3 linked regions of the Homo sapiens genome follow. The protein of the gene in region 3 interacts with the protein of the main gene of each other region in a biochemical or structural test. Each region holds a gene or a part of one and is shown on either strand. Other genes may lie near its edges.

Region 1 (3,490 bases), about 16 Mb from region 3:
GGGACCCGGGAGGACAGGGGACGCCTTCTCGCCCCCTCCCCCCTTCCGGCCGCCCAACCCCGCTTCCCGCCCCCGCCCTCCTCACCGGAAAAAAAGCAATCTCGCTGCCCGAGGAGGCTCCTGGCGTCCGCGGGCCGCCCGGGCTCCGCCGGGCTCCGCAGGGCCCTCGCCTGCGCCTCGGGCCTGGGGCCTGGGGCCCGGGGCCCGGCTGGATGCACGTCCCGGCCCCGGCCCCGGCCCCTCCGGGGGCTCGGGTTTTCTTCCCCAACAGGTAGCACGGGCCGCGCCGCGCGAGCCCAGGAAACCCGAGCCCGCGCCAGGGAGGGGCCGCCCGGCCTGGACGCGCCCGCCTCCCGCGGGGCCGAGCCCGCGGCCTCCTGGGGGCCCCAGCGCTGCGGGCCGCGCCTGCACCTGCCGTGGCCACGCCCGGCCGGGGACGGGCAGGCTCGTTTCCAGGGGTGTTCGGTGGTCGGATCCCCCGCCCCGCTTCAGATAACCCATTTGCAGGAAAATGGTTTTATTCCGGGGCTGGGAGTTGGGGGTGGGGTGCAGGCCTGGGTCGTGGAATGTGAGGAGTGGACAACCCTCTATTTTCCTCTCTCTCCCTTTCTTTTTTCCTGAAACAAACAAACAAACAAAAGTCCCTTCCTACAGTCTAGCCAGGAGGAGTTTGGGGGCTGGGGGCAGACTGAGGGAGATCCGAGAAGCAGATTTTGAGGACAGCCACCTCCAGACGGTTGTCTGCAAGGCCTTCAGTCGCTGACCTTTCAGCGGGCTTCAGGAGCCCGGCTGGGAGGCCGGCAGAGGCTGGTGGCCTGAGATCAGGGTGACACTCAGTTCCTCTCCAGGGCCTGCCACCCGTCCGGGAAGGGGGCACTGTGCCAGCCGCCCCTGGGGCACCGGCCTGCCCCTTCCCAGCTGGGGGCTCGGATGCTTCGCGGCCCTCAGGGTCCTCCCTCGGGGATCTGGCTCCCCTCCCGCCACCCCAGCCCAGTCCTTGGATTAAGAAGGGAAAGGGGTGGGGAGGCGGCCCAGGGGCTGCTGCCCCCTGCCTCCCAGACTACGTGAGGGGCTGGGGCCGCCGTGTGCGCTTGGTCCGGCGGGTGGGGGCGGAGCCCACAAACTCGAACTGCTTCTGCTTCTCGGCGTGGTTGGGGAAGGGCAGCTGGCCTTGGTAGAGGCGCTTGATGAAGTGGGCCTCGCGCTGGTTCTGGCGGCTGCGGGAAGCCTGGCGGGGCCGCCCCTGCCGCGTGAAGGCCATGAACCAGCCCTCGTGCCGGGCGTTCTGGAAGGCCGTATAGTTGTTCTCCAGCACGATCTCCGTGAACACGCAGTCTTTGCTCTTCCCGCTGGGCTGCGGGAGAAGCAAGGACAGGAAGGGCATTTGTCCACCTACCCTGGTCTGGGGTGTCGCCCTTACGGCCTATTTTGGACGACTGAGGAGGGACAACGGGAACAACGGGGCCGTGAGCCCAGGGAACTCTGCCTGGTGAGATGGCATCCTATTTAGAGAGGCAACAGTGGCCAACAAGAACACGCTTTGTGGATCTGAGTTGCAGGCTTGTCGTTTAGCGGTCCTGAACCAGGCTGGGCCTCAGCTTCCTGAGATGTAGGTGAAGATCAAGGACCTGCGGCATTTCCCAGCATGCACGGGCCCTTAGCACTGAAATGCTCATGCAGCCTAGGTGAGGGGTGCTGCTGGGCATGGGAGAGGAGGCAGCAGCCTCCAATGAGAAGAAAGAAGGGTGCCAGTGCAGCCACCCATCCCACTCTGTCTGCAATCAGGGGTCTGTGCCCATTTCTACAGACAAGAAGCCTGAGGCTTGACAAAGATAAGCAAACCAAAGGTTATTTGGTCAGCGACAGCCGAATGGGAAGCTGGGATTGCCTGGTTTCAAACGAAGTGGAATTCTCCCACCCAGCAGGGCCCGGCCTACCGTGTGCTTTGGTCACAGGGGCAGCTGCTTAGTGTCTATCTTGCTAGCTGGAGCCCACTGGCCCCACTGAACTTGGGGGAGTTCCTGTCTTACATCTGTGCCCCACTTTCCACCCTCAACAGCTCTTAGTCCTCCACCCAGAGGCTGCAGTGTCAGGTAGATGCTAAGCTCTTACTGATGCCTGCTGGAGAAATACTCCTGACATCAGCCCCACAGATCCCAGTGGCTTGCCAGTCCCCTCAGAGGGCTAATAGAGTCCCGGGGACTCATTTAAATAGAGAAACCAGGCCGGGCTCCGTGGCTCACGCCTGTAATCCCAGCACTTTGGGAGGCTGAGGTGGGAGGATCGCTTTAGCCCGTGAGTTTGAGACCAGCCAGGGCAACATAGTGAGGCCCTATCTCTACAAAAAAAAAAAAAAAAATTAGCTGGGCATGGTGGCATGCACCTATAGTGCCAGCTACTACTTCAGAGGCTGAGGCGAGAGGATTGCTTGAGCCCAGGAGTACAAAGCTGCAGTGGGCTATGATTGTGCCACTGCACTCCAGCCTAGGTAGCAGAGCAAGACCCGGACTCTAAAATAAAAACCAGAGAGTGGCCCAGTGGGTGGGCTGAGAGTAGGATGGGAAGTCTTTACACAGGAGGGTGTGTGGCTCAGAGGAGAGAGGGGAGCATGATGCCCTATATGTCCCCACCCCAGTAGGGCTGATTCTCTGTTACTTCCCAGTCTCCCAGCCTCACCTTCCCGATGAGCTTGCCCCTCTTGTTCATACAGATGTACTTCTCACTCTCAGCCCCTTTGATGCGAACCCGGCTGCCAAACGTGTCCGTCTCCACTATGAGCTTGGCTGTGGTGGGGGAGGGGAGAAAGACCTCCGTCCATCGGGGCTGCCGGCCTATGGCTACAGCAGGGGACCACCCAGCCACACTGACCTCCAGACTCAGGCGAAGGGGTTGGGGACACTCAGGCCCTTGGGGCCCTCAGCCCTGACACAGGATCTGGGGATGGACCAGGAGGTGAGGCAGGGTGGAAGTGAGGCAGAGTGGAGGTGTGGGTGCCCTGGGGGGAGGGCCAACTCTCACCAAACTTGTTGCCGTCCTCGGCGGTGGCGGAGATGCGACGCCCGGTGACCTGCACGTGCTTGCCACTGGTCCTGCTGTAGAGTTGGTACTCGCGGATCTGCCGCCTGCTCAGCTGGTCGGTCATGGCGCCCTGGTCCCTCACGTACTGGTTAAAATTAGGAGACGGGTGATTCTCCCCCTTTGCGGTTACCAAGGGAAAAATAGTGTCAATTTGCTTTGGGTGACACCACCACTGGTCCATCCAAGGGAGAGGGGTGAGGAGGTGAATATAGTGGGGACAGGCCACTTGTCCTGCAGAGTGAAGTGGGCATATGGCCATAGCCTTCCCAGGCCCCTGGGTGAGCCGGTCATAACCTCTTTGCTTTGCGTCTACCTTACAGAAGGGACTGGGGTCTGCCCAGGCTGGGGGACACTTATTGACAGAGCACAGCCCTGGAATCAGGACTCTGGGAGCTGGAAGGAGCCCTCAGGG
Region 2 (3,500 bases), on a different chromosome or scaffold from region 3:
CATATTTGAGAACTATTGGTATAGAAGGTTGGTTAACTTGCCACTATTCTGATTGAGCACACAGTAAATATATATTTAGCACCCACTCTCTGAGATTCTTTGCAACCCTATGAGCTATAGGCCAGCGGTCCCCAACCTTTTTGGCAGCAGAGACTGGTTTCGTGGAAGACAATTTTTTACACGAAAGGGAATGAGGAGATGGTTTGTAGATGAAACTGTTCCACCCCAGATTATCAGGTATTAGTTAGATTCTCATATGGAGTGTGCAACCTAGATCCCTTCCTTGCATTGTTCACAGTAGGGTTCGCACTCCTGTGAGAATCTAATGCTGCCACTGATCTGATAAGAGGCAGTGCTCAGGCAGTAATGCTAGTGATGGAGAGTGGCTAAATACAGTTGAAACCTCGCTCTCGCTTGCCTATGGCTTGCCTCCCGCTGTGTGGCCCAGTTCCAATATTGGTCCATGGGACATTACAGTTCCCATAATGTTTTGAGGCTTCACTTCATTTAACTTTGTTTCATTTTTAAAGAGAGGTAAAACCACATTTAGAGCCATTTAGACTCACACTATGGTATGGCCACATAATCCCAGAGGTATTAGTGAAAATGTGATAACAACCCCAAGGAGCTCCCTAAGTCCTTCTGTGCTAGGATATAATAGATGAACTTAGGACACTGACAACAATTCTTGGGAGAGAGAGGTTTCATTTAGAGAGGTTAGTATTTGTGTCTTACATTGTGCTAACTATGATATGTTTCAGCACCTTGATTAAAACTATAAAACTATATAGCATTATAATCAATTTCAAGTTAAAATGTTTAGAGAAAAATAGATGTGACTGATTCTGAATTAATGAGACTTTCCACGTTTCACAATAATTTTTTTTTGGAAAGTACATTCCTCACCCAGAAAAGCACCACTACCACTCAATGAAGCAGAACCTTTAGTTTTAGCTAGTGGCCACCTCAAAGTGCCATTGGGGGAGGTGGGGAGAAATGTGGCTCAAGCACTTGAGCTCTTTCTCTCTCCAAGCCTGTTTTTATGCATGCACTTTCTCTCCCTGGAATGTTCCTTCTCAACTTCCCAAATCCCCCCTATTAAAACCCTGCTCTTGAAAAGTCACCTCAAACACCAGCTGTCTTCTTCAGGATGGCTTCACTATTTAAAGTAATGTATAACATATTTTATCTCTCATACCACACTTAATATATTTTCTTTCTGGTTTTTTTTTTTTTTTGTATTGTCATTACTTATTTGGGTCTTTATTTTATTGAGCTTTAAAACTCCTTGAGGCAAGGACCACATCTTGTTTGCCTTTGTAACCTTCAGAATGAGAGCTAACACCTACCCTGCACACTGGTGCTTAATACACATTAGCTGAATTAATTTACTCAGTCTATAGAATTCCATTGTATATTTATGTTCTATTTATCTAGGAGTGGATAGAAGGATTTTGCACTTATTTTTCACATCTAGTTTTCCTTGTCTATATCCATTCTATTAAATACAAGTTTTATTTGCCATATACTTTCTCCTTTTGTGTTTATGGAAAAATATTTAGTGAGAAACTTACCCTCCAGACCAATAGCTTTTTCATTCTAATAGCACCAAAACAGAAGAAGCCTTTGTCCAACATGATTGCTAGGGGGACAATAGGTCAGATGCTCCTCTTCTGGAGAAGAATGAGAAGCAGCAGCTGGGAAAGATGCTTGTGAATGGCCACCTTCTCAGATTAACTATTTAGTCACTCATCAAAACATTACCAGCCCAAACAATTATATATATGAGTATTAAAAGAAAAAAATGCATTTACACGAAAATTGTGACTTCTAAGTTATTTCCACTCAGAGATTATCAAGTCACAAAATTTTCTCCATTACTAAGGTGATGATGCATCATGAGGGAACATTCGCAAAGTAATATGAACTGATTTTTGTCATAATCGCTTTTGTAATGTTGACTATCAAACTTTATTTTTTAAGATTTTAAATATAATCTAAAATAAGCTTTATAGATTGCTACTATTTACTGAAGAAATTTGCTAAATATTACTTTATTTCTAATGTATTCTTTAAACAATTTTATATTTGTAGACAAAATCCTTCCTAGTTGCCAAAATTCTTAGAATCTGCACAAGATGTTTACTAAACTGAGTCTCATTATCTCCCAACTTCACTTTTCCCAGCTTCCTGACTTGTTCCTTGTACTCCAGTTGGTAAATCAAACCTCTTATGATATTTGAAAACACCATACTGTTTTACCTTAATAATTTGCTCTTGCCTTCCCACCCTTCCCAGCCTTCCCCTGGACACTTCTTAACCTTCATGACTCAGTTCAGGTCTCATCTCCAACAATAATTTGATCGTGGAACCCCAGCCAGTATGACCTGCCTTTACCTTTGCCCCATAGTCCCCTTGTCATCATCTTAAGTCATCACTTACTGCCATGTAACATGTTTTATTGTAATTATCTGTGTTTGTCTTTTATTCCCAATAGTACATAGACTTATCAATAGAAAAGCCATTACGTATTTGACTTTATATTTTCATTTTCTAAAAGCGTACCCTTCTCCTCCTAGGTCTTCCTAAGTGATTGAACTAAATTGTCCAAAGACCCTTAAATAGATTCACAATACTACCTGGGCTATTCATGTTTTAAGGGACATAAAAACTAATATAGTTACAACTTAATATAAATAATAGAATTTCACTACAAGAATATGCCTATAAATTTACAAAATATCTGTTTTACATGAATGGGAAATATAATTCATGTGTCCTTTCATTAATAATATAATTTTCAGGTGTTTCTTTGAGTTAAAAAAAAAAAAACCTTTTTTTATAGCTTTTAATGTTAAGGTAATTGTAGAGTCATAAACTTGTAAGAAACACGGGGAGATCCAGTATGCCCTTAACTCACTTTCCTCCAGGAGGCTCTTTTAACTGGCATTTAGTTTTGATTCAAAATATACACATATAGAACTATAAGCTACTGATCCAACAATCCTCAAACAAAATTCTGGAGCTCCTTTCCAAAAATAATTTGATAGGCAAACTTGATCATCCTCACCAAAGAACAGAAAAACTGGAGTGATTCCTTACAAAAAGTAAAGAAGTCCTCTAGGCTTCAGTCCTTCAGAACTCCCCTTTCACATTCACAGATGTTTATAATAGGTGCAGTCATTGTCCATTACTCACAAGATGATCAAATTATAACTTACCTGACCATACGCTGCGTCCCAAAATTATTTTCAAAATTCGAAAGGATATTAAATCACCTATGTCTTCCCTCTATTTTGAAACAATAACTAAATAATAATATAAAAATAATAGCTAAACCTTTTTAAGCTTGCCTAAACTAGTTGCAAAGTGGAAAAAAAATGGTTGATTGAGTCTTTGAATATTGTGCTCCCATTTCAGGTAAAGCAGAAAGAAACAAAGGGGTATCTAAGCTAAATATAATCTACAATACCACTTGCAGTTCATCCTCAGAAATAACG
Region 3 (5,346 bases):
ACCACAAGATGATAAGTCACAGGCTGGAAGACTAGGGGGGCTCTGTTCCCACCCTGGCATTACCCAGGGGAGCCTTCAGGTTCCACACCTTCTTGGAGGCCAGATACTCCATGCCTCGGGCCACCTGGTAGGCGCAGGACACCAGGTCCTTGGAGGAGAGCTGCTCCTCTGGGTTGTGGCTGGGGTTGTAGCAGTATTCCAGCCCTGGGGGCCTCCGGGCCTGCAGGTACTCCCGCAGGTTGCCCTTGGAGGCATACTCCACGATGACATACAAGGGACCTGCAGGCACAGGAGAAGAGGCCATGGGGCCAGCAGCAGGTGAGCAGGTTTGGCTTCACCTCAAAGAAACCCCACCCCCAGCAGCACACCCCGGCCAACCTCCCATCTCCTGCCTCCTCTTAGGGGACCTGGGAAATCCATTCTACTACCCAAAAAAAATCAGAGAAATAATTACTCCCAGCATAGTCCAGAAAATTCCCGAGCAACATTGGGGTAAGAGCCCCAGTTTGTCTGTTTATTTTGAGATGGAGTCTCACTCTGTTGCCCAGGCTGGAGTGCAGTGGCGCAATTTCGGCTCACTGCAACCTCTGCCTTCTGGATTCAAGTGATTCTCCTGCCTCAGCCTCCCAAGCAGCTGGGATTACAGGCATGAACAATGCCTGGCTAATTTTTTTTTTTTTTTTTTTTTTTTTTGAGATGGAGTTTTGCTCGTTGCCCAAGCTGGAGTGCAATGGCGCGATCTCGGCTAACCGCAACCTCCGCCTCCCGTGTTCAAACGATTCTCCTGCCACAGCCTCCCGAGTAGCTGGAATTACAGGCATGCGCCACCACGCCCGGCTACTTTTTGTATTTTTAGTAGAGATGGGGTTTCACCTGTTGGCCAGGCTGGTCTCCAACTCCTGACCTCAAGTGATCCACCCGCCTCACCCTCCCAAGGTGCTGGGATTACAGGCGTGAGCCACTGTGCCTGGCCTATTTATTTATTTTATTTTTGAGACAGCGGGAGTATCTCCCAAGCTGGAGTACAATGGCGTGATCTTGGCTCACTGCAACCTCCACCTCCCGGGTTCAAGCAAGTCTTATGCGTCAGCCTCCTGAGTAGCTGGGATTATAGGCATGCGTGACCATGCCTGGCTAACTTTTGTATTTTTTAGTAGAGATGGGGTTTCACCATTTTGACCAGACTGGTCTCGAACTCCTGATCTCAAGTGATCTTCCTGCCTCGGCCTCCCAAATTGCTGGGATTACAGGCATGAGCCACTGCACCCAGCCTGAGCGCTCTTAGACCATAATTACTCAGCTGCCTCTGTTAACACACCACGTGTGTGAATCTAGGTATCTGTATTCCTGAATGAACACCAATGAGCGGAGCCCAGATCCCGAGATAACACATTTTAAACCTCTGCCAAAGCAGCCTCTCTTAACCCCCTTCCCTAGCTGTGGCTGAGAGAGGCCTTGGGACTGATACCCCAGCTCAGATCTTCTCCCCGCTGGGCAGGGAAAGCCAGTCTGGCCGGCACCCACCATCCTGCGTGCAGGCCCCCAGCAGGTTGATGATATTCTTATGCTTCCCGATCATCTTCATCATCTCCATTTCTGAGATCAGGTCTGACAAGTCTTTCTCTGTTGCGTCCGCTTTAAAGAACACGTTGAGACTCATTTACTTGGGAAGGGAGGAGGGCAGGATAAAGGCTAAGGGAGTGGGGTATGTGTCGAGGGGCTGCTTTTCCCTGGGACTTGATTCTCTCCTCCCCACTTCATCCAAACTTGTTTTCTCTTCCCTCTCATGGGAGCCGTTGTTGCAATAGGTGGTAGTGAGTGGGCAGGGATGTGGTGAGGAAAGCCTGCAAGCGATGGATCCAGGATAAACACCTGACCACAGCCCAGGTTGACGCCAAGGAACAGAGTGACGTCATAGAACAATCTCAAGGTGCAGAACACCCCCTCCACTCCCAGGTAACCCCAAGCAGGCAGCGGAGCAGGTGTGGGCAGCAAAGGCACCAGAGAAGCTGTTCTGCTGGGCCCGAGGCCTGCTGTTTGCTTGGAATGGGACAAGATTTTCTTTGCAAGGACAGAAGCATCACTTACACTTCAACATCTTCACAGCCACTTTGGTCACACGGTTGGGTTTGTCCTTGTCCAGCCCGATAGCCTCTGCCAACACCACCTGCCCAAAGCAGCCCTCTCCCAGGGGTTTGCCTAAGACCAGTCTTTCGGGGGAAACAGAGAGTGGCATAAGTTGGGGCTGGTGAAGTTCAAACCTTGAGAGGCACCCCATCTCCACCTCTCTGTATTTCACCCAACTGCGAGCAGAAAGTGGAATGAATGTTTCTGCAGGCATTTCATGAACCTTCACCGCCCAGAAGGTGTTAGTATACACACCTTCCACCACTAGAATAGCAAGCAAGGAATGCCTTCAAAAAGTTGGGAGTCAAAGTATTATTACCTGTCCCGAGGCAGCTCCCAGCGAGGGTCTTCGGGAAGCTCATACTCAGAGACCCCTGCTAGCATGGGAGTCCCACTGGAGGAGAGCCGTGATGGCCGAACCAGAAGAACCCCAGAGTTCATGGATGCACTGGAGTCAGCAGACACCTGCAAGGAAGAGTGGGGTCACCCTAGAGCAAGGAGGGGGGACGGGGTGACTCCTTCCCATTCTTAGTCAGGGCTTCCCAACAATGGCAGAGGCACATGTCTGTGTATCTGATGTTCTTTCCTCAACACAGAGTGGTCCAAAGACCATGGTAGGCCAGGAGGCCCAACTTCTAGGACTGACCTATTTCTGCCACAAGCTGGCCTTTCTGGACTTCACTCACCTTTAAAATAAGCAGACCAAATGCACCTCTTCCAGCTTGACATTTTATAACTGATCATTGCAGTAACAACTCTGTTCTCCTGACTCTTTGCAAATACTTTGCCTTAGCTTATGGATTCCTAACTCCCAAAGCACCTTCCAGAATGAGCACAGGCTTCTGAGGGAACGGTCATTCTTGCACACACCTGTGCCATCTGTACCATTTCCTCCCGTGGGGAAGGGTGGGCACACAGGGGACAAGGGTATGGTATGGCTGAGATGGTTTGGCTGTGTCCCCACCCAAATCTCATCTTGAATTCCCACGTGTTATGGGAGGGACCTGGTAGGAGGTCATTGACTCATGGGGGCAGGTCTTCCCTGTGCTGTTCTTGTGATAGTGAATAAATCTCACGAGATCTGATGATTTTATAAAGGGGAGTTTCCCTGTACAAGCTCTCTTCTCGTCTGCCGCCATGTGAGACGTGCCTTTTGCCTTCTGCAATTGTGAGGCCTCCCCAGCCACGTGGAACTGTGAGTCCATTAAACCTCTTTCTTTTGTAAATTGCCCGGTCTTGGGTATGTCTTTCTCAGCAGTGTGAAAATGGACTAATACAAACAGTTCTCTTCTCTACCCTGCATCTCTGCACTTCTAAGCAGCCCTTGGGGACAGTTCAAATTCATGCTATTGGCTGCACATTCTGTCCAAATAGGACTTCCTCCCAATCCATGTCCCAGGAGTCCGGAGGACTTGCAGTGTGATATGGAGGGTGCAGGAAATTCACGGGCTACACTAGCTTGAAACAGACTCTAGAGCACTTAGTTCATGATATTCCACTGTGCCTTGCCCAGAAGCCAGAAAATAAGGCCCAAAGCTATAAATTAGGGACAATGGAGAGGGCAGGGCATTAGAGGCCCAGAGAGAGAGGTGGTGCTGAGTGTGCAAATCCCCCATCTACTTTCTGTTACCTGTCTGCGCAGAGGGATGCTCTTGGCCAGCTTGTGCACAGCCATCTGGCTGTGGAAGTCACTCTTCTTGGTACCACTCTTCATCTTGTAGACGATGACCGACCCCACCATGCAGGAGATGAGGAAGGCCCCTGTGCAATAGATGATGATCTCCAGGTACAGGGGCGAGGTCATCACTGCCGGCCTCTCTTCCAGGGCTGAGTCAGTGCGAACAGGGTGTTAGCAGGCTTGGAGGGCCCCGTCCATGCGAGGTCCCGCTCCATTAGAAAAGCAACACCTGTCTCCTGTCCCCTGGGAACTTTTAGGGAGAAGAACCATGGCAAGTTCTAGCTAGGACTGGGATTGTGGCACTAGGAGGATCAGGCAACCCCCTGATTTTGGAGGCTGCCTTCAATGGACTTGAGCCATGGAAAAGGGATGGCCTAGAACCATCGTGCTACACAAGCCCCATCTTCATTAATTCCTGAGCCTCCTTGCTCAGCTGGACTGGAGAGGTACAGGCACCCAGGGATCCTGCAAGGGCCAGCTGAGAAGTCACTTCTATGTGCCTTTCTTGGTCTCCTCAGGGAGCCATGGCCCTTCTCTGCAAAGCCTCAGCACTGTGTGCATGCACTTAACATGCGGGGACACAGATGTTTCTGAGTCCTCTGTCCCTAAGAAGACACGGGGTCCCTGAGGGCAGGGTTGGTGCCTCGTTTATTTCTGCAGGCCACAGTACCTGGTGATGGTGGCACTCACAGAATGAGGACAGAGGACAGGAGGGGAACCAGCCTGTGCCTTGCTCAATGTCCCACTTTGGGTCTGTGTCATCTCTGTAGGGGCACACAGGTAAATATTTATTCCTAGCCAAACCACAGGCAAAGCTGACTTAATTTCCAAAAATAAGCTTTTTTGGTAGTTCTTTCAAATTCTACTCATAGGCCCCAACTCCTAAAACTTAAGGAAATGTGGCGGCAGGGGGCGGAGTTCCATTTTGTTATTCTCTTCTCCCACCTTCTGATTAGGACTCACCCCCCACCCCATTGCCACAGCAGCTAAGCCAGTTCGGTCCACCTTTCCCTTCAGCACGAGAGGCTGGGAGGCTTTCATCCCAGCACGCACAGCACTGGTTTCATGGAACACGCTTTGCCCCACGGGTGTGGACGGCCCTCCTCCTTCCACAGGCCTCCTCCCAACCTTCCCCTTTAAAACCCACCAGCCAACCATGGAGGCGGCGCCCCTGGGAACCTTCCCAGAGAGGCATGAGGCATGAGGCACGACCCTAGACTGAGCCCAGAGAACGTCCCAAGGCCTGACAAGGAGACAGCAGAGCTGATGACAGGGAGAAGTGTTGCTGTTTTTTCTTTCCCTGATGTTGAGGAACGAAGACAACTGATTGGGAGCACATGGGGAGCACGGACAGGACCAAGACAGGGACGATGATAAAAACAGAACGCTTCTCTGCCTCCAGCAGGGGCATCCGGAGACCCTGACGGGCAAGCAGGGCAGAGTGGGAAAGGAGGGGAGAGAGAAGAGGGCAGTGCCAGCAGGAACAGCCAGACCCACATGCAGGACATTCCGAGAGACAGCAGCAAGCCCTGGCCCCGCAG

The links. Proteins that work in one complex are often made in the same cells at the same time.
Region 1: the proteins of FGFR1 (region 3) and FGF17 interact in a test that uses a peptide from one of them, tested with the Homo sapiens proteins (one study listed by BioGRID).
Region 2: the proteins of FGFR1 (region 3) and FGF10 interact in a test that uses a peptide from one of them, tested with the Homo sapiens proteins (one study listed by BioGRID).

Annotation. Positions count from the first base shown.
Region 1 is NC_000008.11:22,045,820-22,049,309, reverse strand, and holds the end of FGF17 (fibroblast growth factor 17 isoform 1 precursor), read right to left. Parts: exon of another isoform or gene 3,338-3,490; coding exon of another isoform or gene 3,197-3,337; coding exon 3,019-3,196; intron 2,784-3,018; coding exon 2,677-2,783; intron 1,355-2,676; coding exon 1,061-1,354; 3' UTR 501-1,060; downstream 1-500. UniProt on the Homo sapiens protein: Plays an important role in the regulation of embryonic development and as signaling molecule in the induction and patterning of the embryonic brain. Required for normal brain development.
Region 2 is NC_000005.10:44,312,921-44,316,420, reverse strand, and holds part of FGF10 (fibroblast growth factor 10 precursor), read left to right. Parts: intron 1-3,500. UniProt on the Homo sapiens protein: Plays an important role in the regulation of embryonic development, cell proliferation and cell differentiation. Required for normal branching morphogenesis. May play a role in wound healing.
Region 3 is NC_000008.11:38,415,782-38,421,127, forward strand, and holds part of FGFR1 (fibroblast growth factor receptor 1 isoform 1 precursor), read right to left. Parts: intron 3,955-5,346; coding exon 3,752-3,954; intron 2,593-3,751; coding exon 2,447-2,592; intron 2,211-2,446; coding exon 2,089-2,210; intron 1,636-2,088; coding exon 1,525-1,635; intron 280-1,524; coding exon 89-279; intron 1-88. UniProt on the Homo sapiens protein: Tyrosine-protein kinase that acts as a cell-surface receptor for fibroblast growth factors and plays an essential role in the regulation of embryonic development, cell proliferation, differentiation and migration.